4 linked regions of the Homo sapiens genome follow. The protein of the gene in region 1 purifies or fractionates together with the protein of each later gene. This does not show direct contact. Each region holds a gene or a part of one and is shown in the gene's direction. Other genes may lie near its edges. The genes, in order: IER2, KDM5C, PPP2R2D and RGPD8.

Evidence for each region.
Region 2: the proteins of IER2 (region 1) and KDM5C purify together in Homo sapiens (affinity purification with mass spectrometry; 3 studies listed by BioGRID and IntAct, with this or other methods). This does not show direct contact.
Region 3: the proteins of IER2 (region 1) and PPP2R2D purify together in Homo sapiens (affinity purification with mass spectrometry; 4 studies listed by BioGRID and IntAct, with this or other methods). This does not show direct contact.
Region 4: the proteins of IER2 (region 1) and RGPD8 purify together in Homo sapiens (affinity purification with mass spectrometry; 3 studies listed by BioGRID and IntAct, with this or other methods). This does not show direct contact.

Annotation. Positions count from the first base shown.
Region 1 is NC_000019.10:13,145,890-13,153,427, forward strand, and holds the start of IER2 (immediate early response gene 2 protein), read left to right. Parts: upstream 1-4,521; 5' UTR 4,522-4,663; intron 4,664-7,054; 5' UTR 7,055-7,297; coding exon 7,298-7,538. Other genes in the region: STX10 (syntaxin-10), read right to left, coding at 3,140-3,202, 3,610-3,704, 3,839-4,008, 4,250-4,284. UniProt on the Homo sapiens protein: DNA-binding protein that seems to act as a transcription factor. Involved in the regulation of neuronal differentiation, acts upon JNK-signaling pathway activation and plays a role in neurite outgrowth in hippocampal cells.
Region 2 is NC_000023.11:53,222,192-53,229,311, reverse strand, and holds the start of KDM5C (lysine-specific demethylase 5C), read left to right. Parts: upstream 1-4,104; 5' UTR 4,105-4,422; coding exon 4,423-4,572; intron 4,573-7,120. UniProt on the Homo sapiens protein: Histone demethylase that specifically demethylates 'Lys-4' of histone H3, thereby playing a central role in histone code. Does not demethylate histone H3 'Lys-9', H3 'Lys-27', H3 'Lys-36', H3 'Lys-79' or H4 'Lys-20'.
Region 3 is NC_000010.11:131,896,876-131,904,023, forward strand, and holds the start of PPP2R2D (serine/threonine-protein phosphatase 2A 55 kDa regulatory subunit B delta isoform), read left to right. Parts: upstream 1-4,132; 5' UTR 4,133-4,273; coding exon 4,274-4,280; intron 4,281-4,362; coding exon 4,363-4,455; intron 4,456-7,148. UniProt on the Homo sapiens protein: Substrate-recognition subunit of protein phosphatase 2A (PP2A) that plays a key role in cell cycle by controlling mitosis entry and exit. Involved in chromosome clustering during late mitosis by mediating dephosphorylation of MKI67.
Region 4 is NC_000002.12:112,367,866-112,374,665, reverse strand, and holds the end of RGPD8 (RANBP2-like and GRIP domain-containing protein 8), read left to right. Parts: intron 1-4,453; coding exon 4,454-4,488; 3' UTR 4,489-6,297; downstream 6,298-6,800.

The DNA of each region.
Region 1 (7,538 bases):
GGCGGGTGCCTGTAATCCCAGCTACTAGGGAGGCTGAGGCAGGTCAGAATCACTTGAACCTGGGAGGCTGAGGTTGCAGTGAGCCGAGATCACACCACTGCACTCCAGCCTGGGTGACAGGTTAAGACCTTCTCTCAAAAAAAAAAAAAAAAAAAAAAATTACCGGGTGTGGCAGTGCATGCCTGTAATCCCAGCTACTTGTGAGGCTAAGGCAGCAGAATCGCTTGAACCTGGGGGGCGGTGGTTGCAGTGAGCTGAGATCGCACCACTGCATTTCCAGCCTGGGTGTCAGAGTGACCTTGCCTCAAAAAAAAAAAAAATAAAATAAAATGGGAAGAGCTAGAATCCGTGTTTCCTGGGTTGAAATGAGGATTTAAAGAATTAATTGATGGGGGACACTTACAGCAGTGCCCAACACATAGTAATGCTAGTAAATGTCACATTTTACTATTTGTTTATTTTTGGGGGGATTTTAGCTGGGATTACAGGCACCTGCCACCACATCCAGCTAATTTTTGTATTTTTACTAGTGATAGGGTTTCCCCATGTTGGCCAGGCTGGTCTCGAACTCCTGACCTCAAGTGATCCACCTGCCTCAGCCTCCCAAAGTGCTGGGATTACAGGCGTGAGCTACCATGCCTGGCCCAACAGATGTTTGTTTGTTTGTCTGAGACAGAGTCTTGCTCTGTCACCTAGGCTGGAGTGCAGTGGTGTGATCTCGCCTCACTGCAACCTCCACCTCCCGGGTTCAAGCAATTCTCCTGCCTCAGCTTCCCAAGTATCTGAGATTACAGGTGATCACCACCACGCCTGGCTAATTTTTGTATTTTTTGTAGAGACAGGGTTTCATCATGTTGGCCAGGCTGGTCTCGAACGCCTGACCTCAGGTGATCCACTTGCCTGGGCCTCCCAAAGTGCTGAGATTTTAGGTGTGAGCCACCGTGCCCGGCTCCAACAGATGTATTTTAGAGTTTGGACTTGAATTCCCCCAAGGCAGCACATCTGGAAGGCACGTGGGCACTGCTATGGGATGACAAACTGGGAGGAGCCTCAGTCCCCCACCCTCCCCGACCCCACGTACGCTTATGAGGGAGAGAGAAAGGCTGGTGGTTCTCAACATATGAAAAATATCAACAGAGAACACCAAGAGAAAAAGTGGACTGACAGAGGTGGTTGGGAGAAACACAGAAACACACACACACACACACACACACACACACACACGGCAGGCACATTACAGAGGAAACTAGCAGATATTAGGATATGAGGGGGGAAAATGCAGATACACTCAGAGGCCAAGTGCACGCACCCAAATAGGTTAGGTGCATGCACAGATGAAAAGGCGGGGGCGGATCACCTGAGGTAGGGAGTTTGAGACCAGCCTGGCCAACATGGGGAAACCCTGTCTCTACTAAAAACACAAAAATTAGCTGGGCATGGTGGCACACTCCTGTTGTCCCAGCTACCCAGGAGGCTGAGGCAGGAGAATTGCTTGAACCCGGAAGGTGGAGGTTTCAGTGAGTCAAGATTGCACCACTGCACCCCAGCCTGGGCAACATGCCAAGACTCCATCTCAAAAAAAAAAAAGGAAGCTGGCCGGGCGCGGTGGCTCACGCCTGTAATCTCAGCATTTTGGGAGGCTGAAGCTAGTGGATCACAAGGTCAGGAGATCAAGACCATCCTGGCCAACATGATGAAACTCCGTCTCTACTAAAAATACAAAAATTGGCCGGGCGTGGTGGCTCACACCTGTAATCCCAGCACTTTGGGAGGCCGAGGCAGGTGGATCACGAGGTCAAGAGTTCAAGACCAGCCTGGCCAAGATGTTGAAGCCCCGTCTCTACTAGAAATACAAAATTTAGCCACGCATGGTGGTGGGTGCCTGTAATCCCAGCTACTCGGGAGGCTGAGACAGAATTGCTTGAACCCGGGAGGCGGAGGCTGCAGTGAGCCGAGATCACGTCACTGCACTCCAGCCTGGGCGACAGAGCAACACTCCGTCTCAAAAAAAAAAAAAAAAAAAAAAATTAGCCGGGTGTGGTGGCATGTGCCTGTATTACAGCTACTCAGGAGGCTGAGGCTGGAGAATCGTTGAGCCCAGGAGGCGGAGGTTGCAGTGAGCCGAGACTGCGCCACTGCACTCCAGCCTGGCAACAGAGTGAGACTGCATCTCAAAAAAAAAAAAAAAAAAAAAAAAAAGGAAGTTATGTGCGATGGCTCACGCCTGTAATCCCAGCACTTTGGAAGGCTGAGGCAGGCAGATCAGTTGATGTGAGGGGTTTGAGACCAGACTGACCAACATGACAAAACCCTATTAAAAATACAAAAATTAGGCCAGGCGCAGTGGCTCATGCCTGTAATTCCAGCACTTTGGGAGGCTGAGGCAGGTGGATCACCTGAGGTTGGGAGTTCAAGATCAGCCTGACCAACATGGAGAAACCCCGTCTCTACTAAAAATACAAAATTAGCCAGGCATGGTGGCGTATGCCTATAATCCCAGCTACTCGGGAGGCTGAGGCAGGAGAATTGTTTGAACCCAGGAGGCGGAGATTGCGGTGAGCCGAGATTGCACCATTGCACTCCAGCCTGGGCAACAAGAGTGAAACTCCATCTCAAAAAAAAAAAAAAAAAAATACAGAAGTTACCCTGGCATGGTGACGAGCACCTGTAATCCCAGCTACTTGGGAGGCTGAGGCAGGAGAATCGCTTGAACCCAGGAGGCAGAGGTTGCAGTGAGCTGAGATCAAGCCACTGCACTCCAGCCTGGGCAACAGAACAAGACTCTGTCTCAAAGAAAAAAAAAAGAGTAAAAGGCAGGCATGCGTCCTGGAAACAGGTGCACACAGGACAAATGGCATGGAAGCAGAAAGGAGATAGGTACACAGGCCCCCAGCCCTCTCCTGCAACAGGAAACCAGTATAGACCCAGAGGACACAGTAGAGAGGAACCCACGGACATATACACATAGAGAGGTTCAGGTGCACACACCGAGAAAGTGCAGGCAGGTAGACAGCAAGAAGATAACTGCCCACAGAGAGGACGGGCACTGTCGCAAAAGGGACAGGTGAACACGCACAGAGGGATCTGGCTTGGTTACCCCCAGGGGCTCAGGTGGGCAGGGTGGGTCAGGAAGGCTTACCTCTCTGTTATTCCTCTCCAAAAATGCTACGGCTGTTGGGCTGACCATATGGTCCTTCATTTCCTGGAGGTAAGGACAGCATTAGGGAGGAAAGACACTCAGGCTGGGCGCGGTGGCTCACGCCTGTAATCCTAGCACTTTGAGAGACCAAGCCGGGTGGATCACCTGAGGTCAGGAGTTCGAGACCAGCCTGATCAACATGGTGAAACCCCGTCTCTACTAAAAACACAAAACTTAGCCGGGTATCGTGGCAGGCACCTGTAGTCCCAGCTACTCAGGAGACTGAGACACAAGAATCGCTTGAGCCTGGGAGGCGGAGGTTGCAGTGAGCCGAGATTGCAACACTGTACTCCAGCCTGGGCGACAGAGCGAGGCTCTGTCTCAAAAAAAAAAAAAAAAAAGAAAGAAAGAAAGAAAAAAAAACACACTCAAACCTTCCCCCACTCCCCGCCTGCAGGACCTTTCCTGACCTGGACTGCCTCTCGCATCCGCTCCACGAACACCTTTCTCTCCTGCAGGTCCCCGGCTGGGAGCTTGAACTTGCCTGGGTTGGCTTCCACTATACGTGGGCTGAGAGTCAAGGGTCAAGGCCGGAGCCAGATATCATCCCCGTCCCTAGGGGTCCAGCCCTACCCGAAGGTGGGCTGCCACCGCAATGGGCTCTCCCATGCCACCCTCTGCCACAAAGCCCCAGGATATCGATGGTCTCTTCCAGGTCCTCGAGGTCCCACTCGATGCTGCGCAGGCCATTCCGCAGCTCATTGGTCGTCCAGTCCAGCTCCTCGCGTCCGACCGCCGCGCTTTCCTGCAGGAGCTCGCACCAGCGCTGGTACAGCCCGCGGGCCGTGTTCACCGCCTTCTGCACCTCGCTGCGGGCAGGGGCACGGCGGGCGCGGCTGGGGGCAGGCGGTCCTCCCGCCTGCCTCTGCCCCCGACTGCAAACCCAAACGCATGGGGGACTCCGGAGACCCCTATATACCCCTGCGTGCGCCTCCCACTCTGCACCCCGACGGCCTTGCCCAGCCCGCCGGGCACGCTGGGGCCGGCACCCGGGCACTGGCTGGCTTGGGTACAGAGCACCCTCCGCCCTCCCCCGTCGTTGTCACTCACCCTCGGACTACAAAAAAGGGGTCTTCGAGAGACATGTCAGTCCCTTCCCCCCCAGGCCGAACCCCCCTCCCGGCCTGGGTTCGCGGGCTGGTTCCCTCCCAACCGAGGAGAACGCGCCGCCACCCCCGCCCCCGTCACGCCACCATCGAGAGCCGGACCGCCAGGGGAGAAAGAGAAGCCTCGGAGGCCCGACGTGCGGACACTTCCGCCCTCTCCTCAGCCATCTTGGTTGTGGGCAGAGGCAGCTTCCGGTGCACATGCCCCCGCCCCTTAGCCCTCTCGTGCCGCACCGTAGGGGGCGGTGTCGGAGTTCTGTCTGGGCCTATTCGGGTCCGAGTTCGGAATTTCGGTTCAAGGCCCAGTTCCTCGGATTGTTCCTGCGCAACTTCAGTTTCCCTTCCAGGCACGGGCAATGTAAATAATGATAGCCTCCCTCATCTCTGGCGGCTGGGTATTATGGCTGGGGAAGGGGCTCATTCGATTCGTTGAAGCTTTTCATGGACTCCCTGAGCTGGCACCTGGGAGATCGTCCCATCCCAGGGTCCCGAGTGTCAGGTTTGGCTAGGGTCTGGGGGAGAGGTGGTCCTCCCTTCTCCCTGCGGGGGCGCGGTGAGGAGCGGGCCTGCTCCTCCGGGGAGTTCTGCCGCATTCTCCCAATCTCTTTCCTGAGAAGTGGCGGAGTTGGGGGCACTTCGAGGTCGCCTTGGGGCGAGGTGGTCGTGAGGGGGTCCCAGATATGCCAGCAGCGGGGGGAGGTCACCTTTGAGAAAGTGCGTGGAGGTGGGTTTCTTCAGAAGCGCGGAGTCTTTCTGGGTGCGAGCCTGGGGGTAGCGGGTGGTGGCTTTGAGGATGGTCTCCAGGGGGGCCCTCTGTGTGTGGGGTCTCCGTCTGGGTAGGGGCCAGGAATATCAGCGGAGGGACTCAGGGTCGTCCCTATGTGTGACAGTGGCGCTGTGTGTTGGGGAGCTTCGGGAAAGCACTTTTTTTGAGTGATAGGGGGCCTGGTCTCCCCTGGAGGGTGGGCGGGTTATCTGAGGGAGTCCTCGGAGGGTCGCCCCCTTGCGCGTCAGAGTTGCTGCGTGGGGTCTCAGAGATAGCGCCTGGGCTGGGGAAATCATTGTGGGGTCTCCGTGGTAAGGTTAGCGGGGTGGGGACGGCCTGCGTCTTCGGCAGGTCGTCGCAGTCTGGCACCATCGTTGAATGGGGACGAGTTTGGGAAGGGTATTTTAGGGGGGAATAACTTTTGAGTTCCCAGCGTGCGGGGGAAGGGCGGGACGGGAGGGTGTCCCAAGGCCTGAGAAGATCAGTGTGGGGCAGGGGTCAGGAATAACCTGGGAGGGGGCCTTGTATGGGGGAAATAATTGGGAAGAGGAGAGATGGGATGAAGGGGGCCTCAGCGGGTCGTCTCCTGTGTATGCAGGGTCGTTCTGCAGCGTCTCTGGGAGATGGCGTCCCTGGGAGCCCTCAGGTCGCCCCTACCCGCTGCGGGGTGCTTTCCTGGCGTCACGCCTTCCTGGCCCCTGGAGGGAAGGAAGTGAAACTCTCCTCTTCCCCCACCCGGCTGGAATGCGAGTCAGGAAGCCTGGGGCTCCAGCCTGCTCCGGCTGCCCGGGTCGGGGATGGGGAGGGGCGTGGCCGGAGCGCAAAGCCCCGCCCCTCCGCGCCCCCCCCCCGGAAGCCCCGCCGCCGGCCGCTAAGGCGATCACGGGCCCTGTCCTAATATGGGCAACCGGAAGCGGCCCGCGCGACTGCCCTACGTCACTCCGTCCAAATTTAGTTGTGGAAGTCAGCGGGCGCTGGTGGCGGGAAGGCGCCGCGAGCCAGTGCGGGCGGAAAGGGGGCGGGGGGCGCACCACCCCTTAAAGGGCCCGCACCAGGAATGAATGGAGCCATTCGAACAATTCTGCATCCTATTTTTGGAGGAAGTGGAATTAGTATTTCTTGGAGAGACGGCGCGTAGCGGAGGGTAGGGCGGAGATTTTCTATCTGCTCTGTCTCTGCATTGCTGGGTTTCCAGCTCCCAACCTAACCCCGCCTCCCCGAACGCGGAGACGGAACTCGGCCCCCTTGTTTGGGGGGCGGCAGCCACGTGTTCACGGGGACTGTCGTGCGCGCCGGGTTCGCAGCCGTGCGAGCTCTGAACCCACCCGTGGAGCTCCTGTCGCGGGAAACTGCGGGGGAATGGCTTGGTACGAATCACGGGAACCCGTAGCCCGGGGCGGGTCACCGCCTACAAGCAAGGGCTGGCGTACGCTAGAGACCGAAGAGCTGGAGGCCCCAGTGGCCCCCTTTCACAGCAGTAGCAAATATTGTTTGTTTAGTAAATATTGGCCTAGTGACTCTGCCTTGGTTTCCCCACTTGAAGGAAGCAGATAGAACAGTATCCTCCGAGGAGTGGAGGCTGGGGATCGGTGAATTATTGATAAAAGGAGAGCTCTTAACCTAGCCTGGCACGTTGTAAGCGCTGTTAGCATGATTATTGGTGCAGAAAACACTCATTAGACACACCTGGTAAATGCTAAGAACAGTGGCCACAGGGGATGTTCAGGCTGGAACCAGGGTCTTCCCCTGTGTGAAGGGAAACTTGCTGCCCACGACCCACTGGGGCCTCCAGACGGGAGCATGTGGGTAGGCCGTGAGCTCCACCCCCGGCCCCCCTCCCTTGGGCCAAGGCGCTGATGCATCGGCGGGGCTCAGAGAAAGGAGCCCACCCAGAAAGCTCAGCGTGGAGTCGGGGGACGCTCCTCCTCGCCAGGGTTCCCGTCCCCTTTCCCTGCTGGGTAAATCGCATTCTGTCTCTTTAAGGAGTGTTTGGCCGCGACGAGTTGGAAAGCCCGGATGCGTCCTTCGGTTGGGCGGGGTGTCTCAGTGACGTCACTGGGGGTATAAAAGGGCCTGGGTGGCGGGCGCCTGGGCAGAGCGTCCTAGCAGTGTCACTGCGTGGGTTGGTTTGTGTAGAGAGGCGTGAGCGAGCCCGTTGTCCGGAGTGCACCTGCTGCCTGTTCTGTCCCTCCCGGGAGCCCCCGCCGCTGTCGCCGTCGAGTCGCCATGGAAGTGCAGAAAGAGGCACAGCGCATCATGACCCTGTCGGTGTGGAAGATGTATCACTCCCGCATGCAGCGCGGTGGCCTGCGGCTGCACCGGAGTCTGCAGCTGTCGCTGGTCATGCGCAGCGCCCGGGAGCTCTACCTCTCGGCCAAGGTGGAGGCCCTCGAGCCCGAGGTGTCGTTGCCGGCCGCCCTCCCCTCTGACCCTCGCCTGCACCCGCCCCGAGAAGCCGAGTCCACGG
Region 2 (7,120 bases), on another chromosome or scaffold:
ATATATAACCCATTAACATCATTCTTTATTTTGATGTTCACAGCCCCAGATTTGGCCAGTAGGAAGCCCTCTAAGCCCCTGTGTCCTGTGGCACATCTCCATCTTTTTCTGAGCCCTTCCAAGGAGCCCCGGTTCTTTTTAGTAGAGAATGACATTTAGAAACCAAGATTTGGGCACTAGGTGTTACAGCAATATTTTAAGAGCTTGCTCTTTTATTTTGCAAAGGTTTGAGCATCCATTGATGATTTCTAGCTCCATCATTCCTTCTATATAATTTAGAATTCTACTTTCCCTTTTCTCTCACTTTATTTACTTATATCAATGTGGAGTCATGGATTTTTATTTTAACCAGTGAGTTGTAATCCACTACTATCATAATTCATTTTGAATTAACATTACTTTGGATAAATCATTTTATTGTTATGTATATGTATAAGCACATACTATACATCTATATTTCTATACTAGACATCGATATTTCTCTGTCTCTGTCTAATAAACCATGAGTTCACACAGATACCTTGAGGAGGCTCTTTTAAGAGTCCAGGCTAGAGACAGTAAAAGGCTCACAGGAGGAGTGGAAGATGGCAAGGAGGAGGGGATGGATTCTAGAGCTATTTAGGAATCAGAACCAACAGCTTAAACCTACTTCAGAACTGGAAGAGATCATATTTTACAAACCAAAAAAAGTGAGACACAAAGTCAGTGTCAGCCCAGTTGATCCACAAAACATGAATGGGGTGCGTGTGGTTTTGAGCCCAGACGAGCCTTCCAGTCACTGCTCTGCACCAACTCCATGTCAGACCCTGTCTCCCGGGTGGATGGGTGAGGCCAAGCCAGCCCCCAGCCTGGAGTGAGTTTCCTGATGCATCCCAATTCTTAAGTCCCCAGCGTCTAGACTCCGGTTGTCCCCCAGCAAGACCCATGGCTTGGGGAACAAACCCATTTCCTGAATGCCTTACTACATGGGGAGCACCATCTGAGACTCTTACAGGCAGAATTGTACGGCAGTCAGACAGACCTGGGTTTGAGTTCTGGTCCTGCCACTTACTAGCCATGTGACTTGAGTAAGTTTACACTTCCCTGAGCTTCAGTTTCCTCATCTGTAGGATGGGGATAACAATACCTACTTCATAGCACCTGGCCCTTGATGAATGGCAGTCATCATTATCTCTAATCCTCCTAACAACACTGTGAGGAAGGGATTATTTAGCTTCATTATACAAAGGAGAAAATCAAGGCTCAGGAAGATGAGGTACTTGGCAGATCTCAGTGGGTGCATGTCAGCTCCAGGAAAGTAGAGACTACATCTGTCTTGGTCACCATTATATTCCCAGTGCCCAGAAAATTTGCTGGTGCATAGTAGAAATTTAATAAATATTTGTAAACGAATAAATTCTATCTCATTGGCTTCAAAGACTACATAATTTCTATTTAATCTTCTAGGACGGGTGTGTCTGGGCTAAAGGACCTCAAAGAAGGCTGTAGGAAGACTGTGCAGAGCTGAGACCCAAAATCTGGCCTCCTGATTCCTGATTCATGCTCTTTGTACTTCCTTGAGCCTCTAGATGGAAAGGCTGAACTTCCTTCGGCCTAAGATCTACCGTATTCTCCCACCTTCTAGATTCTCCTCACCCTTCTCTGGCCAGGCCTCTGCCTCCTTTTCATCTGTTTCTTCCACGCACCACCACCACTACCACCATCACGGTCACAGCCACGGTGGCCTGGGGGTGCTGCCCGATGGGCAGTCCAAGCTCCAGGCCCTGCATGCCCCATATTGCCAAGGACTGGGCCCTGCCCCACCACTCTACCTCCCACCCCAGCAGCTCCCTTTTCCCTCACCTCCTCCACTCCTGGTGAGGGCAAACGACAGGAAGAGCATTTGACCAGAGTCAGCAACTTCCTGTGTATCATTGGGCAAGTTGTTTAATCTTTCTGGAACTTGGTTCCTCATCTACAGACTGGGTAAATTCACCTACATCTTTCTGAAGACTGTTGCAAAGATTAAGGGAAATAATTGGTATGAACTAGCCATGTAGGCAATTAGATGCTTATCCATGTGAGAGGCTAGTGATATTACTGTGATTAGCATCACTTTGCCTAGTTTTCCTGCTTCCTGTCCAGACAGCTGTTCAGTTGGATCATCCACCTGTGTTTCTGGTGGAGAGGGGCTGAGGTTTCCCCTGACACCTAGAAAACTAGAAAGATGTCACTTAATATCTGTGTCACTTGGGACAAGTCTCCACACGAGCCAAGTGGGGATAAAGATCTTGAACATTCAAGGTAATATAAGGATTCAGGTGATAAAAAAAAAAATACAAAAGCACTAGCACAGTGTCTGACACAAAGGAGATTCTTAATGAGTTTTGGCATATTGGTTGTTGACTCTCAGAAATAAAAATAACAGCTACCAGATACTGAGGGCCTGCTATGTGCCAAGTACACAACAATTCTGCAAGGTATGTATTATCCCCATTTCAGTTACAGAAGTTGGGACTTGTTCAAGGTTACAAACTAGAAAATGGCAGAGCTGGTGGGACTGCAAGGCATGACTCTTTTGAGCCCAGGGCATGAGCTCCTTCCTACCTGTGTGCCCTGTTCCCTCAGCCAGGATGTCCTTAGCTCAGTCCTGAAGTAGGCAGGATGGACCTAATTGGCACAGTATCTGATTAGGAACAGTTAACTGCACGAAGGTATGACACTCCCTATCTGCCTCGAGCTTACAGTGGATGTTTAATATGTTAAACAGGAAATGTTTGCAAAAAGTATTCATATTTTTCAGTCAATATATACTAAGGACATTTATTCATTTTTCTTTTGTTTACTCAACATTCATTTACTGCTTAACATGCCAAGTGCTAAGGATGTATAAGGCCACATGGTCCCTGCCCTTAAGGAATTCATAGTCTGATGGGGGAAAACAAAATTACTTAATCAGCATGTACGCAAGTACTCAAATATTTGCACAGTAGGTGTTCAAACTATATGCAGTAGGTCCACAGCTGATGAATGACACAGATGATCCTCCAATCAGTAGATGCCTGATGTATATGTACAAAGTACTGGTTTGATGATACTCATTCAAAGTACTGTAGTTGCAATGAACCTATTCAGAAACTGCTCAAGGAACATGCACACGATAGGACTAAATGTACATACAGTTGGTACCAAATGCACAGGGGCTATACACAATAAATACAATAAAAGTACACGGATGTTTGGTAAGTGCACTGTAGGCTCACAAATGGGCAAACAGGTGTTTTACACAGTTGACACTGGATAAATACGCCGTTGCTAAACATCCAATAGTTAAAGTATACATACACACAGGCTTATTTTGTAGGAGTATATGCCACAAATGTGTACATGGTAAAAGTGAATACAGAACAGTTGAAAGCGTTCATTAAAATGCTGACTCCCAGTGACTTTTGGGGGGTAAGAATCGAAACCCCATCTCTCTACCTGTAACCTTGGATGAAATAAAGATTTCCTTCCTTTACTTGGGACTCAGAATCCTAAAAATCCATAATCCCCGGGGAGTGAGCAGCTTCCTGCCTTCCTTATTTCAAAGCCCCAGAGGTGTCAGTGTCTAGAGCTGGAGCCTAGTACATCTCCCCCCATCCCGCGGGCCAGCATAAGGGGTCCTTTGCAATCAGGCTCCCAGAGCCGCCTTCCGCGGCCCATACCGTTAAGACCAGGGAGAAGGGACAGAGAACACTGGTGCGGGGCTAGCGACCTGGTTGAGGTCTGCGGGGGAGTGCCGGTTTGACTCCACCACCCACGGACACCAGCTCCTCTTCCGGTCTCCATAACGCGCATGCGCATCACTGGCCTTTAAACGTGCACCGCCGGTCCATCCGGAAAGACGATCCGGCAAACTAATTACAATCTTGTTCCTCCGCCGTTGCAATGAACTATTTTCTCTCAGTCCGGGGTGGTACTTTTGAGTAACCCCTTCCAAATAGAAACCCATACCAGCCTATTTAGCTCGGTCTCCACTATATGAAGGTTTCCTAGGGCTTGGTGTGACGCAACGTATACGAGGCTCGGAAGGACACCCCGCGGAAGGATCCGGTTTGTTGTGGTGTGGGGAGGGGAGACGCTGACAAACCAAGATGGCGGCGGCGGCGCTGAAGGCCGCGGCGTTTGGGAGGTAACTGTGGTGGCGAAGGCTGCGGTAGTGGGGAGGCAACCACACAGTTTGGAAGAAACGGAGCGGGACGAAGAGGCGGTAGCAGTAGAGTCAGCCTGAGACTCTCAGAGCACGACGGCCACACGCCCCCTTAGGCCCTCGGCGGGCGGCGGCTGCCCCGCTTAGGGCCTAGCCTCCGAGCATTGCCTCGGCTTCAAACAGCGGCGGCGCCATGAGTCCTTAAGGGCGGTCCAAGCCTCCCGATCCCTGGCCCAGACCTCGGGCCCACCATGGAGCCGGGGTCCGACGATTTCCTACCGCCACCGGAGTGCCCGGTGTTCGAGCCTAGCTGGGCCGAGTTCCGAGACCCTCTTGGCTACATCGCGAAAATCAGGCCCATCGCAGAGAAATCGGGCATTTGCAAGATCCGCCCACCCGCGGTAAGCCCCGGGGCCGGTTTTCGCCGGCGGCGAGACGGAATGAAGCAGTAGGATAGCCAGCGGCGAAGTCTGGGGCGGAGGGCAGCTCGAGGTGGGGAGAGGGGGTGGCTGGGACCGTTGTGGTTGCGGCGCGGATCGGAAAAAGGGTGTTGGGCCAGGGGTCCTCTCGTGGTGTGAGGCCCACAGGTGACCTGGAGTCAGAGATCCACCCCCACCCCGGCCCTTCAGAATCACTCCGGGTTTAAGACAGGGATTCCTAGTGGGCCGGAGGGAGTTCACAGAGAGGCACCCCGCACATCTCTTAGCCCGGGCCACCTAGGTCGAGGCTGTAAAAATAAGACGTTTCTCCAATCTGTTGTCATCACTTCCTTTAAGGCAGGCAGCATAGTATAGTATTAATAGAAAGATCGCAGTCCTGAAGGGAGACAGACTTGAGTTCAAAACTCCACTTTGAAGCTGAGCAGCTGTGTGACCTTGGGAAAGTAGAAGTAATCTCTCTGAGCCCGTGAAATGGATCCCAGAAATGGTTATTTAGAGGATTGAATTAAACTAGGTAGCGTCTGTATGTAGTACGCACTAGATAAGTGGTAATTATTGTGACTGTGAGGGTGTTTGATGTGGTCATTGGTTTATTCCTATGTAGGTTGACTCATATTTACTCATACCTTGCCAGGCCAATTCATCTATGATAATATCCTGGCCTGCTGGACCAGTCAGGAAATCAGTCTCACAGGGATTGCTCTGTCTCCCTTGAGGTGGGTTCAGGGAATTGTCCTCTTCTTTTCCTCGTTGAAGGCAATGTCAAGGCCTTTTCTGCACATCATCCCGCAGACTTGACTTCCTATGGAGATGTTTGGACCGGTCAGCTTGGTGGTGGGGTGTGAGTCCTTCTCAGAAGATTTCTACTCTCCTCTGGTCCAGGATGTAGGAGATCCCAGAGGATAGGGCACTCTTGGGCCCGCAGAACAGAATGGAGCCATGGAATTCTGTCCCTTTTGGAACATGATTGCCAGGGGTCAGCAACAAAGGCCATAGCTTTCCTCCTAGGCCTGGCTTCAGGCTAGAAGTCTCCCAAGGGCTAGGGCAAGCTGCTGCCTTGCTGATATGGTGGAAAAGTGATGATAATGTTCAGTGATCAGTTGGGATTCCAAGGGCAGAAATTGAGCTTTGCTGGAAAAGGGTGTTTTTGAGTGGGTGTCTCCTGGCTGAAATGGAATAGGAAGCTTCATTCCCACCTGAGGAGGGCACCACAGGCCTCCTTATCCAACTTGGTGCTTTCTGGTGCTCAGCCACAGATCTAGGATGGTTTCAGATAGATCCTCTAGGAGGTGTTGGGTAAGCGAATTTCTTCCTTCTTGGAGTCTGGCCACAGATTTCTGAGGTATCCTTGTCCATGGTGAGGGAGTGGCAGTGGGTAGAGGGTCAGGAAGGCTAGTGGAAGGGAGAGGCAGGAGTCCTGGGCAGCCTCAAGGAGGCACTCCCTGAAGTGGTTGGGCAAGCCTGTGGGAAAAAGAGGCATAGCTGACGTAGGGGGTAGTTGAGGCCTGAATTCCTTTTTTCTATCTTGGACTGACTTAGGCAGGCTGGCCTTGTGTAGGTGTTGTTACCCTGCTTTGGGGCATCAGGAAGGGGAAGAGTGACATGTCCCAGGTGTGCATGGCCAGCAGGAGGCCGTCCTTTTCACTGCTCAACAGTGTGCTTCTCTCTAATCCAGGATACCTGGCTCTCTGGTTTGGTTTTGTTTTTTCCTTCTCTATGGCAGCTCCTAGGCCACCTTTAGGCAGCTGGCCTTCTTCTGGTTGAAGTTTGAAGTACTCGCTCAAGTGATGCTTGGGCCCAGGGTGGGAACCTGTATATGGGTGGGTACCTGGGAATTGGAGGTTTGCTGGAGGAAGGATGGTTTGGGGCCTGAATTGCTGGGCAGGTGACTGCTACGCTTGGGAAAGATGGGTGGGAGGAGAGTGTGGGTACCCTGAGTAGACCCAGTGGAGTTTGGAAGGATCTTGCTTTCTTCATCAGGTAGCCAGCCTTTTTTTTATCACCACATCCCAGTAATACCAACATACATTTGGCATACAGTAGTCTGGAGATGAAGGCAGGCGGTTTGCAGGGCCTTCCCAGGTATCTGTTGCATCCATGGCTCCTGCCGTAGCATTCCAGGGCTGCCATTTCCTGTCAGGTGCTTGATGTTGCACTGATTGTCTAGAACTTGATTCAGCAGGAAAGAAGGGTGCCCGGAGTTTTGGGTTTGAGCACCTTTTTAGCTGGGTTACCTGTGCTGAGGGGAGTGCCCTATCCTGATGAGAGGCAAGAGGGCATGGGGAGCTTGTCTGGATTTGAGCCATACCATTTTGGCCTGCCTGTTTTTTTTTTTTTTTGTCCCTGCTTACTGAGCCCCAGATGTTTGCCACCTGCTTTGGCTGGTAGGGGCAGGGGAGTGTGGTCTGTGTATGCATGCAAAATATGAGTCCTCTAGCCCATTTTCTAAAAGTGTGTGTGCAGAAGAGGTCAACAGTTTTTCTTCTCTTTCACTGTCTCTCCCCCCCGC
Region 3 (7,148 bases), on another chromosome or scaffold:
TCTAATACACACCAGGCATTTTCAATTCAGCTGTGAGATCTGAAAAACAATTTTAAAAAATAAAATTGCTGTCAATACTCAGAAACTTGTAAACACCAATTAGAATCCAAACAGAGAAATTCATTGAGCTATTAGGTTGGCGCAAAAGTCATTGTGGTTTAGCCAAATATTTTAAGTTTTTAGCATCATAAGAAGAATAGTTAAAAATCTCTTTTTAAAAAATAGTTAAAAATCTCTTGCTGGTCAGCTGATGCACAGTGGGACGCAGGGAAGGCAGCCCCCCAGTCTCAGGAATATGTTACTTTTGTGGCTATATCTTGTTTTTAGTTTAATTTAATGGGAGCTAATGAACCAGAAAATACATTCTAAACAAAAACTAATTATCTTGTCATCACTTCAAAAGACATATTTAACACACATTAAAGCAGTTACATAGGAACTAAGAATAAAATCCTACATCCCCCACTGGCTGAACGAACACCCCTGTGGCCAGGGGGGGCCCCAGGAAAACCTCAACACTGAGGCTATAATGGGGGATGGGAGGTCAGACAGGCCTCCTGATACCCCCGCCCTTTTGTGGTTTGGACACAACAGACCAGCGTTAACGTTAAACTAGAGACCATAAGACTGACAGAACGGACTCTGTGGCAGTAAGATGCCAAATCATAAACAGGGCCTAAGGCCGTGCGGGGGGAGGGTGAAGCCACGCACCGCACACTTACAGAGAAAACGTCGTTCCCACTGCTGTTGGGTTTTCCTTCCCTCCAGCAGCTAAATAAGCACTGGCCTTGATAGGAGCAACATTAAGCAACTGCAGCTCCACCAGCCACTAAGTGACCCCCAGCCCTGCTCCAGCAGCCGTAACTACAGCTTTCATTGGACAGAAGACTGTAACTGTCTCCTGATAAGAAACCACCGACCTTGGACTGGTTCTGGCCGGTTTACAGAGGTTGCACATCTGCATGCCTTCCTGTCCTGAAAAGACCTCTTGAGGTACAGGGCCTAGTCCTAATTTACTTATTTATTTATTTATTTATTTATTTAGAGACGGAGTCTCGCTCTGTCGCCCAGGCTGGAGTGTAACGGCACGATCTCGGCTCACTGCAACCTCTGCTTCCCAGGTTGGAGGGATTCTCCTGTCTCAGCCTCCCAAGTAGCTAGGACTACAGACATACGGGCGCCACCACGCCCAGCTAATTTTTGTATTTTTAGTAGACAGGGGGTTTCGCCATGTTAGCCAGGCTGATCTCGAACTCCTGACCTCAGGTAACCTGCCAGACTTGGCCTCCCAAAGTGCTGGGATTACAGTCGTAATATATTCAAATGTTTAGTCTCCCCGACAGAGTGAGATTGGGTCCTATGTTACATAATACACGTGTCAGGAGCCCCTTCCTGAGTATTCATAGCTCCTCCCAAAGCCTGTTGTCTATGTATGTTTAGCCAACCCGTTCAGCATAGAGCTCCTGCCCCAACTCCTCCTCCTACGAAGAGCCATCTCCCATCTTGGCCTGGGGGATGGCCACCTTGCTGGCTGTAACCATTTATAAGAAATAAAGTTCCTCTTTTTCTAAATTTATAAATTGTCAGGTTTTTAAGTTAACAAATAAAAGAGATCTGGTCATTAATTCAGGTTTTCAAGTGTCTTCCTGGGCAGATAGGCTAAATCTACATTTTAAAAACAAGATTACAGCCCCATTTTTCTGCTCTTCTTCTCCTCAACAGAGAAGTAGGTATTCACTGCCTCTAGTTCCTCTCCTGCCACTGTCCCCAGAGCCCTCTGCAAACTTGTGATCTGAGTCCATTCCATAGCCACCGCTCCGTCCAAGTCAGTAATGGCCTCCCAGTCCCTACAACCAAATGGTCACTCCTGTATACTCATCACATAGCATCACAGAGCAGCCACTCCCTCCTGTCTTCAGTGGATCCTGGAGATGGGTTCTCCAGGAGCCCACCTCGCAGGCTGCTCACTCATCCTCCACGTCCTCACCCCTTCAGGGCTCTGTCCTTGGTCCTGTCCCCCATCTGTCCTCCCTCCTGAGGTGACCTCACCCAGTTTCCTGACTTGAAATGACCTCTAAATGCTCTCACCTTGATGCTCTGGCTCTGACTTCCCTGTGTGCTCCCAGCCTGTCTGTGCAACAGCACTATGTGTTGACAGCGAACCTCTGGTCGGGCTGCACCGCCCCCACCCAGCTGTGCCTTCTGCTGCAGAAACTCCATCCTTCCAGGTGCTCAGACCACCCGAGAGCAGGCATTCCTAAGTCCCTGCTTTCTCTCACACCGCATCTTTTCCATCAGCAAATCCCAGGGGCTCTGCTGTCGAAGCACTTTTCTCTGAAATCTGACTGGTTCTCACCACCCCACCCCATGTTCACCACTCTATCCTCATCCCCATGCCTGGTCAGCCCAGCTGGCCACCTGATTGGTCTCCCTGCTTCCCCTCTTTGGGTCCCCACAAGCTATTCTCAGCAGAGCATCCAAAAGCCCAAGTCCATCACGATCGTCTTCTGTTCATGAGCCCATCTCATTCAGAGTCCAAGTCCCCTAAATGGCCTGCCCACTGTCCATCCTCCTCCACTTACCTCCCTGCCTTGACTCCAACCCCTGGCCTCCCCTCCACTCACTCTGCACCCACGCAGCTTCTGGCTGCCTCCTGCCCATGCCAGGCATGGCCCTCCTTCCTGTCCTGGCACTTGGTGGTCTCCCCTTCCTGGCCAAGCTTTCCTAGACGTCTGCATGGTTTGCTCTTTATCCTTGAGTCTTCTCCAGTCACCCCGTGCAAGACTCCAACTCTCCCCATACACATTTCCTTCTTCCCTGATTTTTCTCTCCAGCTCCGACTTATTATGTATTTATTTCCTTATTGTCTGTCTCCCCCACTGAAAGGTAAGCTCTACCAGGGCTGAGATTTCTCTGCTCTGTTAACCTCTCACCCCCAGGGCTGTGGAGTGTGCCGCACGTGGCAGGAGCTGTCAATAAATAATATTAATGGAGTGGACGAATGTTCCTGATTTGCAGCGACTGTCTTTTAGTGGTGCAATACCATCAGTGCCCACCGCAGCTACCCTGAAAGAAGTTCTGATTCCGGACATCAATCCCATAGGGACAGTCCCCCTGATGATAGCTCGACTTCAGATTTTTCAACTTTACGACGGGTAGATTGGGTATTAGATGCATTTTTGACTTAGGAAGGGCTTATTTGCGGGGAGGGTAGCCCCACTGTAAGTCGAGGAGCACCCATGATCGCTCAGTATGCCAGAGAAAACCACCCGCAAATGAAACGATCGGCCCTGTTTCCCTAAGACTGCACTGGGAGCTCCAAGAACCCCTAAGGTAGCCATCTGGTGAGCAACGGTGCGCTCCGAAAGGGAGGTGGACAGGATTGGGAGACCGAGGCCGGCAGATGGCTCGAGCCCAGGAGTTCGAGACCAGCCTGAGCAACATAGACCCCCGTCTCTACAAAAAATTTAAAAATCAGCGAGCCTGGCGGCGCGTGCCTGTGCTCGCAGCTACTTCCGAGGCTGAAGCAGTAGGATGGATTGAGCCCAGGAGGTCGAGGCTTTTAGGGAGTCGAGATCGCGCCCCCGCACTCCAGCCCGGGGAACAGAGCGAGACTCCGCGTCGGGGGCAGTGGGCGGGAGGCAGCGCTCAGGTACGGCGCGCTCAGGTGAGGCCGGCCCACATGCCCGCCCACCGCCGCCAAGCGCGTCCTCCATTGGCGGTTCCACGGAGAACCCACGTTTCCATTGGCCGATGCGGGATGGGGGCGTGTCCGGCCAAGCGGCGCCCTGAAGGCGTGTCCGGCCGCAGCTTAGGCTCTCCGGGAGTCCCCGGAGAGTAGGGGCGGCCGGCGGCGCTAGTCTTCTGGGGAGCGCCGGGTGCACACCGGACCACTGCGGGAGGCCTAGGGCCGAGGGCCGAGGAGCTGGCCTGCGCCCGGCGACCCCGGCTTCCCTCCGCAGTCGCCCAGGCGTCCCTTCCCCCCTACAGCCGAGCGGCGCCGGGCGCAGGCGCATTGGGCGCCCCCGGCAGCCCCCGCGGCCCGCCCCGTCCGCTGCCCGTCCGAGGAGGCGGAGGGCGATGACGTCATCGAGCGGGGCGACGGGCATTGGGCGCCATTTTGAAAAGGGAAAAAAATCCCTCCCCGGCGGCGGCGGCGGCGGCGGCGGCGCCGGCGGTGGTGGCGGCCCCGGGGCTGAGCGCTCGGCTGCAGCGGCGCGGAGGCCGTCTCCCTGGTCTGCCGCGGTCCCCGCCCGTCCCGCCGCCGGCTGCCATGGCAGGTGAGGGGTCTGCGCGGGCCGGCGGGGACCACGGGGGCGGGCGGGGGCCGCGGCCGGCCTGACCGCCCCGTTGTGTTTGCAGGAGCCGGAGGCGGCGGCTGCCCCGCGGGCGGCAACGACTTCCAGTGGTGCTTCTCGCAGGTCAAGGGGGCCATCGACGAGGACGTGGCCGAAGGTGAGCCCCGCGCCGCGCCCCGCCCCGGGACCCTCGCGGACAGCTCCCAGCCCGGCCGCGCGCGGCCTCCGGGCCCCAAGCGTCCGTGGAAGGCAGGCAGGAGGATGGGGGCCGGGCGGGGCAGGGGCCAGGGGCCGAGCTGGGGGCCGTGATCGGGGGGCGGCCGTCCTCTGTCCGCTGTCCCGGCCCGCGGGGCACGGGCGGAGGCGTCGGGCCCGCGGCGGGACTTATGTAAGTCACCAAGGTCACGGGCGGCCGGGTCCTCCGAACCCAGCGCCTGGGGCTGCCTCCTGCCCGGGGCGGAACCGAAGCCCGGGGCTGCCTCCTGCCTGGGGCGGAACTGAGGAGACCGCGGCGGAGCCGGGGACGGGAACGGAGTCCATATCGTGCGCTCGGGCAGCGCGGCACAATGGCCCAGAGGCTGGGAACGCGCCTAGGGCTGGGTCGGGGCCTCGGCCCCCACCAGGCTCTGCGTTTCATCGGCGGTGCGCTCTTGAGCGAGCTGGTTGCCTCGGCTCCCTGATTCTTAAGGTCTGCTTTCTGCGGTTCTAAAATCCTTGAATTTTACTGTGAGGTACTGCTACTTTCTCTACTGATATATTTTAAGGTCTCTATTCCAGATTTTAGTCTTGAACTTCATGGTATTACTTGAAGTTCACTGGTCTTTTCCTTAAATCATACTCTCAAATTGGCCCAGGCACAAAGTTTTAGGGTGGTGGGAGGGAACTGGGAAGTGCCTCCCACCCCAGCTTCCCATGAAGCTTACCTGTCACCTTAAAGTTAAAAAGCTATGTAGCTTTCCTTTTTCACCGTTGAATGGAGAACTTGGTCGAGTCTTAGAAGTTTGATTAATATTTCAGATTCAGAGTCATAGTGACTTTTTTGTTGTTGTTCATACATCTTACTGAACATTGTAAACCTTTAACCTTTTCTTAAAAATGATTGGTGTTTGCACCAAATACACCTTCCCTGCCTCAAGTTACTAAAAGCCCCTTGTCAGACGTCCTGTTCACTTCCCTCCATCTCGGCCCCCCCAACCCCGTGAACTTTTACTCCCTCTTCCCTACCCTGTACCTCTCCCTGGCAGTGTCTGGTTTGGCACATGACCCCTGAGGACATCTGGAGATTCTGCGCCCCCTGGGACAAACAGGGCCTAGGTTATTAAGCAGGTGAAACTGGGCTCTAAGAAATGCGTAATATATATGGTTTGAGATTAAAACTAGGTGCATTTTATGTGATCTAAAAAGTTTATTGATTTTATTTCTTTAAAATGCATTACTTTTTTTGTTTGATTTTGCATATGCTAAGCAAGTGACAGTTCAGCCTTACTCAAGTGTGATTTCTGTCGCAAGTAAAGCAAAACTTGTTTGGGAGTAGGAAAGTGAGAGGGCTTAATGCTTGCCTTAATTTCTGTTAACTCTTTATTTTGTTTTTTGGAGACAGGGTCTCACTTTGTAGCCCAGGCTGGATGGAGTGCAGTGGTGCGATCTGGGCTCACTGCAACCTCTGCCTCCTAGGCTCAAGCGATTCGCCCACCTCAGTCTCTGAAGTAGCTAGGACCACACACACGCGTGCACCACCACACCAGGCTAATTTTTGTATTGTTGTAGGGGATTTCGCCATGTTGCCCAGGCTGGTCTTGAACTCCTGGGCTCAAGTGGTCTGCCCACGTCAGTCTCCCAAGGTGCTGAGATTATAGGCGTGAGCCACCGCACCTGCCTGGTTTCTTTACTTAAAAAAAAAAAAATTATTGATAAGCTGAATGAATTAAAATTTAAGTATAACTAAGGTAGTATATTTTAAATGTGACTGTACACATATGAAAATAGTATTCTTTCTTTAAAAAAAATCTTGGGCCGGGTGTTGTGGCTCATGCCTATAATTCCAGCACTTTGGGAGGCCAAGGTGGACAGATCACTTGAGGTCAGGAGTTTGAGACCAGCCTGGCCAACACAGTGAAACCCCGTCTCTGCTAAAAATACAGAAGTTAGCCGGGCGTGGTGGCACATGCATGTAATCCCAGCTACCTGGGAGGCTGAGGCAGGAGAATCACTTGAACCCGGGTGGTGGAGGTTGCAGTGAGTGGAGATCGTGCCATTGCCCTCCAGCCTGGACAATAGAACAAGGCTCCATCTCAAAAAAAAAAAAAAAAAAAAAAAATCTTGACAAATACTTTGTTCTCTGAATTAAACTGATGGGAACTTTTTGCAGTTTTAAATCCCTATTTTAAGTTAAATTTTGAGTAAATCCAAAAGTTTGGTATTTCGAGTTGTCGTGGTTTCTTTTGTAACATTGCTTTGTGGTAATTATCTGCATGTGTTTTGGTTATTCTGTGTATTCAGAGCTGTCTATTTTAATCCATGTATGCTTTGGCCATAGTAACCCATCCAGATTAACACATTTATAAGTCACCATCGATTTGTCCCATAGTTGTGATACCGTTGCTTTGTATTAACACCAGAGAGTCAGTGATGATGAAGGGAAGTGTAGTCGTTAGTCACCAGGGATTGCTGAGCAGCAAGGATCAAGAAGCTGGTCATGCCCAAACGCAACCTTGAGGGAGAGATGTTGGTGAGAGATAAGAGATGGGTGGCTGGGTACGGTGACTCACACCTGTAACCCCAGCACTCTGGGAGGCTGAGGCGGGTGGATCACTTGAGGTCAGGAGTTTGAGACTAGCCTGGCCAATATGG
Region 4 (6,800 bases), on another chromosome or scaffold:
CCACAGATTCAAAAACCCAGTAAAATCTCAAGCAGTATTAAAAAAAAAAGAAGAAATCTACTTCTAGTCACATAAGAGTAAAACTGCCCCTAAAAAAGACAGAGAGAAATCTCAAAAGCAGCCAGAGAAAGAAGACACATTGCCTCACAATAGACTTCTCAACAGCATTGGTGTAATACTATCTCATGTACTAAAAGAAATAACTGCCAACCTTTTATATTTTCCAAGATCTCTTCTGGAAAACAAAAACTTTAAGAATCTGCCTTCACTGGAAATTCTTAATGATGTACTTCAAGCAAAAAGAAAATTTCCTAGGTAAAAGGTCTAAGATGCCAGAAAGAAAGACATGCAAAGGAAACTTACCACCATATTACAGATATGGACTGTCAGTCTGACTGGTCACACTAGGGGCATTTTGTTACCAAGGCCTTGAAAATAATAACCAACACTGCATACATGAGGGATGCCAGAAGAAAGGTCTGAGAGCCACTCTTCCTGGCACTGAAGGAAACAGGGCCCATCAGAGCAAACAAGTACCTTTTGCCTCTCTCATCTCCTTGGAGGCAAATGTTTATAATCTCTGGTTTTGTGTAAAGTTTATAACAGTATTTTTCATTCAGGTTGCTACCTATTAGTGGATGGTGAAATTAATTTGGTGGATCACATTCAGGATATTTTTTTTTTAAATCAAAAGAATACAAGCTGGGCTCAATGACTCACACCTGTAAGCCCAACAGTTTGGGAAGACCAGGCAGGAGGATTGCTTGAGAACAGGAGTTCAGAATCAGCCTGGGCAACATGGCGAGACCCTATGTCTACAAAAATTTTAAAATATGCCAGATCTGGTGGCATGTGCCCATAGTCCTAGCTACTCGGGAGGCTAAGGCAGCAGGATTGTTTGTTAGAAGGAGTTCGAGGCTGCAGTCAAACTTCTGGTCGAAATCCTGGTCACGCCACTGCATTTCAGCCTGGGCAACAGAGTAAAACCCCATCTTTAAAAAAATATTAAGAAATAAAAATAATATGTGAAACGTTAGAATATGTTGAATCTGGTAAGGATAAGCAATTATTTCTTGAAACTCTACATATATACATGAGTGTTGGTAAATACCTGACTGTATCATCAGCTCTAGATATAAAATGTTTATGATGTTGGCTGTGAGTTAATGAGGAATAGTTTTCCTTTCTGTGGGTTTGGGTGTATTTGGGAAACATTAGCTTAGGGGGGTAAAGTAGGTTACCCAACTCTGAAAAGCAGCATCAAAATCTTTATAATAAACACATATTAGGGGCCCAACTTAAATTTCAAGCAGATGTCATGAGCTGCTCAGAGTAGCGTGTTACAACTCTGCGTTATAAGGTAAAATGACTTAGAGTGTAGCAGTAGTCCCCAATGTCAAATAGACAGTGGTAAGTATAGATTGCTCTTCTCCTTGCATCACAAATGTTAATTCACCCTGCCCCCACACGCATTAAAACTCAGCATATTTCACAAATTGAGTGTTTCATTTCTATTTGAGATAGACTTATGGTAAGTCAGCTTTGCTCCCCAAATAAGTTAGCCATATAGTACTTCTATATGCAAAATTTGAATCTCAATTTTACTACTAAAGCTGGAAGTAAAAGTCATTTTTCTATATCTTCTTTGCTCCCAGACTGGGTTACAGTTTACAGATCTGAATATTGTCACTTGTACACCATACATACACAGAGGTCTAAAACTCTCTACAAGTAAATAAAGAAAAAAAGCCCAGCAACCCAATAGGAAAATAGGCCAAGCCTGTTATAGGCTTTTTGATCATCTCCAGACTGGCAGGAAGAGAATGCATACTCACACTGTAAGTGCCTGATTTGATTTGCAGAGGATATAGAACCTTATCAGAAAACAGCCTTCCAAGGCAAGAGCAAATGCACCCTATCTAAGCACAGCTTTTCTCCAATTCTTATTTACCTAAGGAGATGAATAGCTGCCAGGAACATTGTTTGCACAAGGGCAGGAGCCTGCCAGATCTGAGAACACAGCAAAATTTTTATTTTGTCAAAAATCTTATATTCAGCTTACACCATTCATTTCAGGTGAACATACAACAGTCTGCATTTCAGTTTAGGGAAATGTTTACAGTCGTCTGGTTCTCTTTATTCTTGGGAACAAGGTTACCTCACTTGGAACACATAACCAGTGCCAAGTTGTCCATCCCTAAGCAATATCGCTTCCTCCTACTTTCTAGAAGTTCTTCAGGTTGTGGAAGACAGACTTTTCAGAATTGTTTGCCCTCATTCCCTCCTCCAGAAATGCATGCCTTTGTATAATCTCTTCCCCTTGAGAGCCAGTAGGCTAACCTAATGAGTTATGTTTAACCAGTAGAATACAGCAAGAATGATAGATTACAAGAGATTGTGGCTTCTATCTTGCTAGCGGCCTCTCTCTGTCTTCTCTGCTTGCACACTTTGTTGAAGCAAGCTACCATCCCAGAGGCAAGGAACACAGGCCATCAGTTTAGCAGCCTTGAGGAACTAAATTCTTCCAACTACCACATAAGTTTGGAAGTAGATTCTTCTCCAGTCCAGCCTTCAGATGAGACCCCAGCCATGCCAACATCTTGATTGCAGCCCTGTGAGAGACCTTGAAATAGAACCATTTCTGATCTCCTGACCCACAGAAACTGTGAAATAAATATGTGTTAAGGTACTAAGTTTGTAGTAATTTGTTACGCAGCAGATTGTAAATAACACGCAGATAAAACCAGACAGAACAGAAAAATAAAATGACTTGTAACTCTAGAAAGTTTCCCCATGTAAAATTTTGAAAATGCTACTCTGCCTAAGGTCAAACTGTCATACATATATACGTATGAAAACACAGAAAGGTGTCTGGAAGGGTAATACCAAATTAAATCTTTATCCAAGAGGAATGAAAACCAGTATTCACACAAAAACCTATGCACAAACCTTGTGAATATATTAAAAACCAGTGAATTATGCACTTTAAAAAGGTGAATTATGTGGTATATGAATTATATCTCCAAAACATTTAATTAAAAACCTGTACACAATTATTCGTAGAAACTTTCTTTAAAATTGCTAAAAACGAGGAAGATCTCAGTTATCCTTCAACTGGCAAATGAATAAACAAACTGGTACAGCCGTGCAATTGAATACTGCTCAGCAATAAAAAAGAATGCACTGCCAGTTCAGCAACATGGGTAATTCTCAAATGCATTATGCCAGTTGACAGAGGTCAGACTCAAAATACTATGTACAGTGTGATTCTACTTATATGACACTGAAAAAAGCAGAACTATAAGGACAGAAAACAGGTTAGCGGTTGCCAAGGAGTGGGAGAAGCAGCCAGGGAGAACTTTGAGGAGATGAAAATGTGCCAGGCCTTGGTCGGTGGTGGTACGTAACTGTGCATTTGTCAAGACTCAGTGCTATATGCTGAAAAGGGCAGGTTTTACTATAAGTAAGTTGTACCTCAATAAACATGATTTTTAAATGATTAAAACTTTGGTTTTTGTTTGTTGTGGTTCAGTTTTAAGGTTTCCCATAAATCTATTGGTTTTAGATTCTAAGTTGTATATAAGCTTCTGTTTTAAAAGAATTTTTTTTAAAATCCTCTTATCGTCAACAATATTTAGTTGTGCTGGAAATTTTATTTTGGAATTGTTTAATAGAGAAAGACAATAAATAATGTTCAAGAACAGACATTGATTCATAACATCAAAGTATATTGTGAGAAGATGGTATTTCAGAATAGAGGAAGAATTTCTTATGTGCTGGTAAGATTGTTTGTAGATAATCATTTCTGCATAATTTTCATAGCTGGATTGCTTTAATAAAGCCATTTAAAGGTTAAGTTCTAGATTGCTTCATGTTGCTTATCAATGTTTTAAAGCTAAAATAGAAAATTAGCTGTTAAGTTGGCTCAACCGGAAATTCAGTATATCCTTTAAAAAGAGAAATTTAGTAAGCAGTGTGTCTAAAGAATGACATATGGTTGGGTACAGTGGCTCGTGACTGCAATCCCAACACTGTGAGGCTGAAGTGGGAGGATCACTTGAGCCCAGGAATTTGAGACCAGCCTGGAAAACAGTGAGACCTGCATCTCTACAAAAAAACAAAAAATTACCCAGGCATGGTGGTACACACCTTGTGGTCCCAGTTGCTTGGGAGGCTGAGGTGGGAGAATCACTTGAGCCTGGGAGATCAAGGCTGCATTGAAGTCTCATCACGCCACTGCACTCGAGCCTGGGTGACAGAGCAAGACCCTATCTCAAAAAAAAAAAAAAAAAAAAAAAAAAAAGAACCCCCCCCCCCACCAAAAAAGGCATGTGATCAGTAAAAAAGACATTATTTGCTTATATTGTAGAGTGGTTCTAAAATATAGATTTTACATTGAGAAATTTTAATACTCTCTTTTTTCTTTTTTTTTTCTTTGTTTTACTTTCTAAAGATGAGGAAGAAAATCCTTCCCGTTCTTCTGGATGAGCATCCTATCTTCGTAGTTGGTTTGGACTTCGATAGGTTGATGGAAGGAATACTTCTATTAACCAAATAGAATCTGTTTACAAAAATGGTTCGTGTGTGTTACCATTATTCTTTTGTCAAAAAGTGTGTATATGTGTTTGCATTTACATATATTTGTACATCTGTATGACAGATGTATTTTAAAAGTTTCAACTTGAAGTAAAAGTACAACAGCTTGAAGTGTTGATACCAGGCCACAGCCCTCTAACTCATGTGATCTCCCATGCATGCTGCCAGAATAAAACCACCAGGAATGAATTCACTCCCCACTTCTCTGGAACCTCAGGACCCGCCCATTTCTCGGCAGTACTGTGAATTTTGAAGTTAAACTAAATTTTGGTACCATACCAACTGGAATTTAGGCTTTAAAAATAATGTTTCAAGGCCAGGTGTGGTGATTCATGCCTGAAATCCCACTACTTTGGGAGGCTGAGGCTGGAGAATCGCTTGAGGCTAGTGAGCTGTGATTGTACCACTGCACTCCAGCTCGGGGAACAGAGCGAGACCTTGTCTCTAAAAATAATAATAGTAATAAAAATAACGTTTTATGACTATTTATTGCAAGGTCAGATTTACAGATTGTTATAAATTGTTGAGAAATTTTTGTGATTAGAATATGAAGGAAAAAGCTTTGTTGGTAAAAGTGACATGTTAAGGGGCTATGAAGTAAATATGCTGCAGTTAATTGTGCTAAGTTAAAATACAGTTTAGTTATTTGCTTTAAAATAAACTCTTCTTTTTTTCTTTAAAGTATACTACCTCAAAACTCATTATGTTGTCAGAGCCCTAGAGCTGGCTAGTGTAACACTGACTATGAGTAGGTGGGCCCACCACTTGAGTTGAGGTGATTTCATGGTGTCTTTCCAGGCTCTTGATAGGGTGTCACTGCATGCAAGCCATGAATCTGTTTTGAGAATCCTCTCCATTTTCCCAAATAAAAACCTATCCCAACAGTGACTATATCACTCAGCATTGGATCTAAATATAAAAGTGGTGCTTTCAGTGTTTTTGGCAGATAGTGTTCCATAACCTTTCCATCAGAAGGGATTTTAGACACCTTAGAGGTCCGTGCTACATCTTCACAGTTCCTCCGAATAACCTTAGGTGGTAGTGTTACTTGCCTTTGACACCTGTGCATATGTTTTAATGACTAGATCCAAACTGTGTTGTTCTTAAATCAAAAATTGGATAATTTTTAATATTTATGTATTAATCACACAGTGTGCTCTCTGAAGTTCTCTTAAGCCTTCAGTTTATACTCTTAATTTTCTTTCTGAGCTGGGGAACTGACTTTGCACTTTGGTTACACAGAACATTGGTTTCCAATTTAGTTTAACTGAAATTTGCTGCTGATATGTTGAGTTTGTTCTTTAAAAAATATCTCATATATCTCGTCTTTCCTCCTTAGAAGAACAGACCTAACTAGCGAATGTATGAATGAAAATGCATCTATTTCAGAGCCGACATGAAGAGTTTAGTTTTTTTACTTTATAAACTGTGAATATGAGTATGCCAGCTGCATTAGATGTAACTAATCATATTTAAATATATTTCACTTTGACTTTAGACCTTTTGAAGTCTGTATAAACTTGTTTTGAAATACAGTCTCCACTTACGAATGTCATAACAAAATACTTTTTTGCATGATAAAAAATTACTTTGATTACAAAAGGCATATTCTTTCATGGTTTCTGCAATGAGAGGAAGTGTAATGATTATTTTAATATTTCTATTAAAACTGTATATTTTTATGGCTGCTCTTTTATGTTACCCACTGTCTCTTTGGGGTTGTTAATTGGTTTCTGAAAGGGAACTTCAAACTCCTTTACTACTGGCCTTCCATGGTTGGTCCCTATTAGGTTGTTGTGAGAACGTCGACCAACTCTTTGATACCCGCCAGGTAGACCGTAGTACCTGCCATGTCTGACACCCTGCATCCAGCTAAAACCAGAAACAGCGCTGGGCCTCCCTGTGGACAAGACATTGATTTGACCAGAAGCAGATGTCTGGCTAAGGCTGCCAACCAAAGGGTGGCCTTAGATGAAGGGCTTTGTTCAGTTAGGGGCAGAGGTCATTAATTTTTTTTTTTTTTTTTGAGACAGAGTCTTGCTCTGTCGCCCAGGCGTGAGTGCAATGGCGCGATCTCGGCTCACTGCAAGCTCTGCCTCCCAGGTTCACGCCATTCTCCTGCCTCAGCCTCCTAAGTAGCTGGGACTACAGGCGCCGGCCACCATGCCCGGCTAATTTTTTGTATTTTTACTAGAGACAGGGTT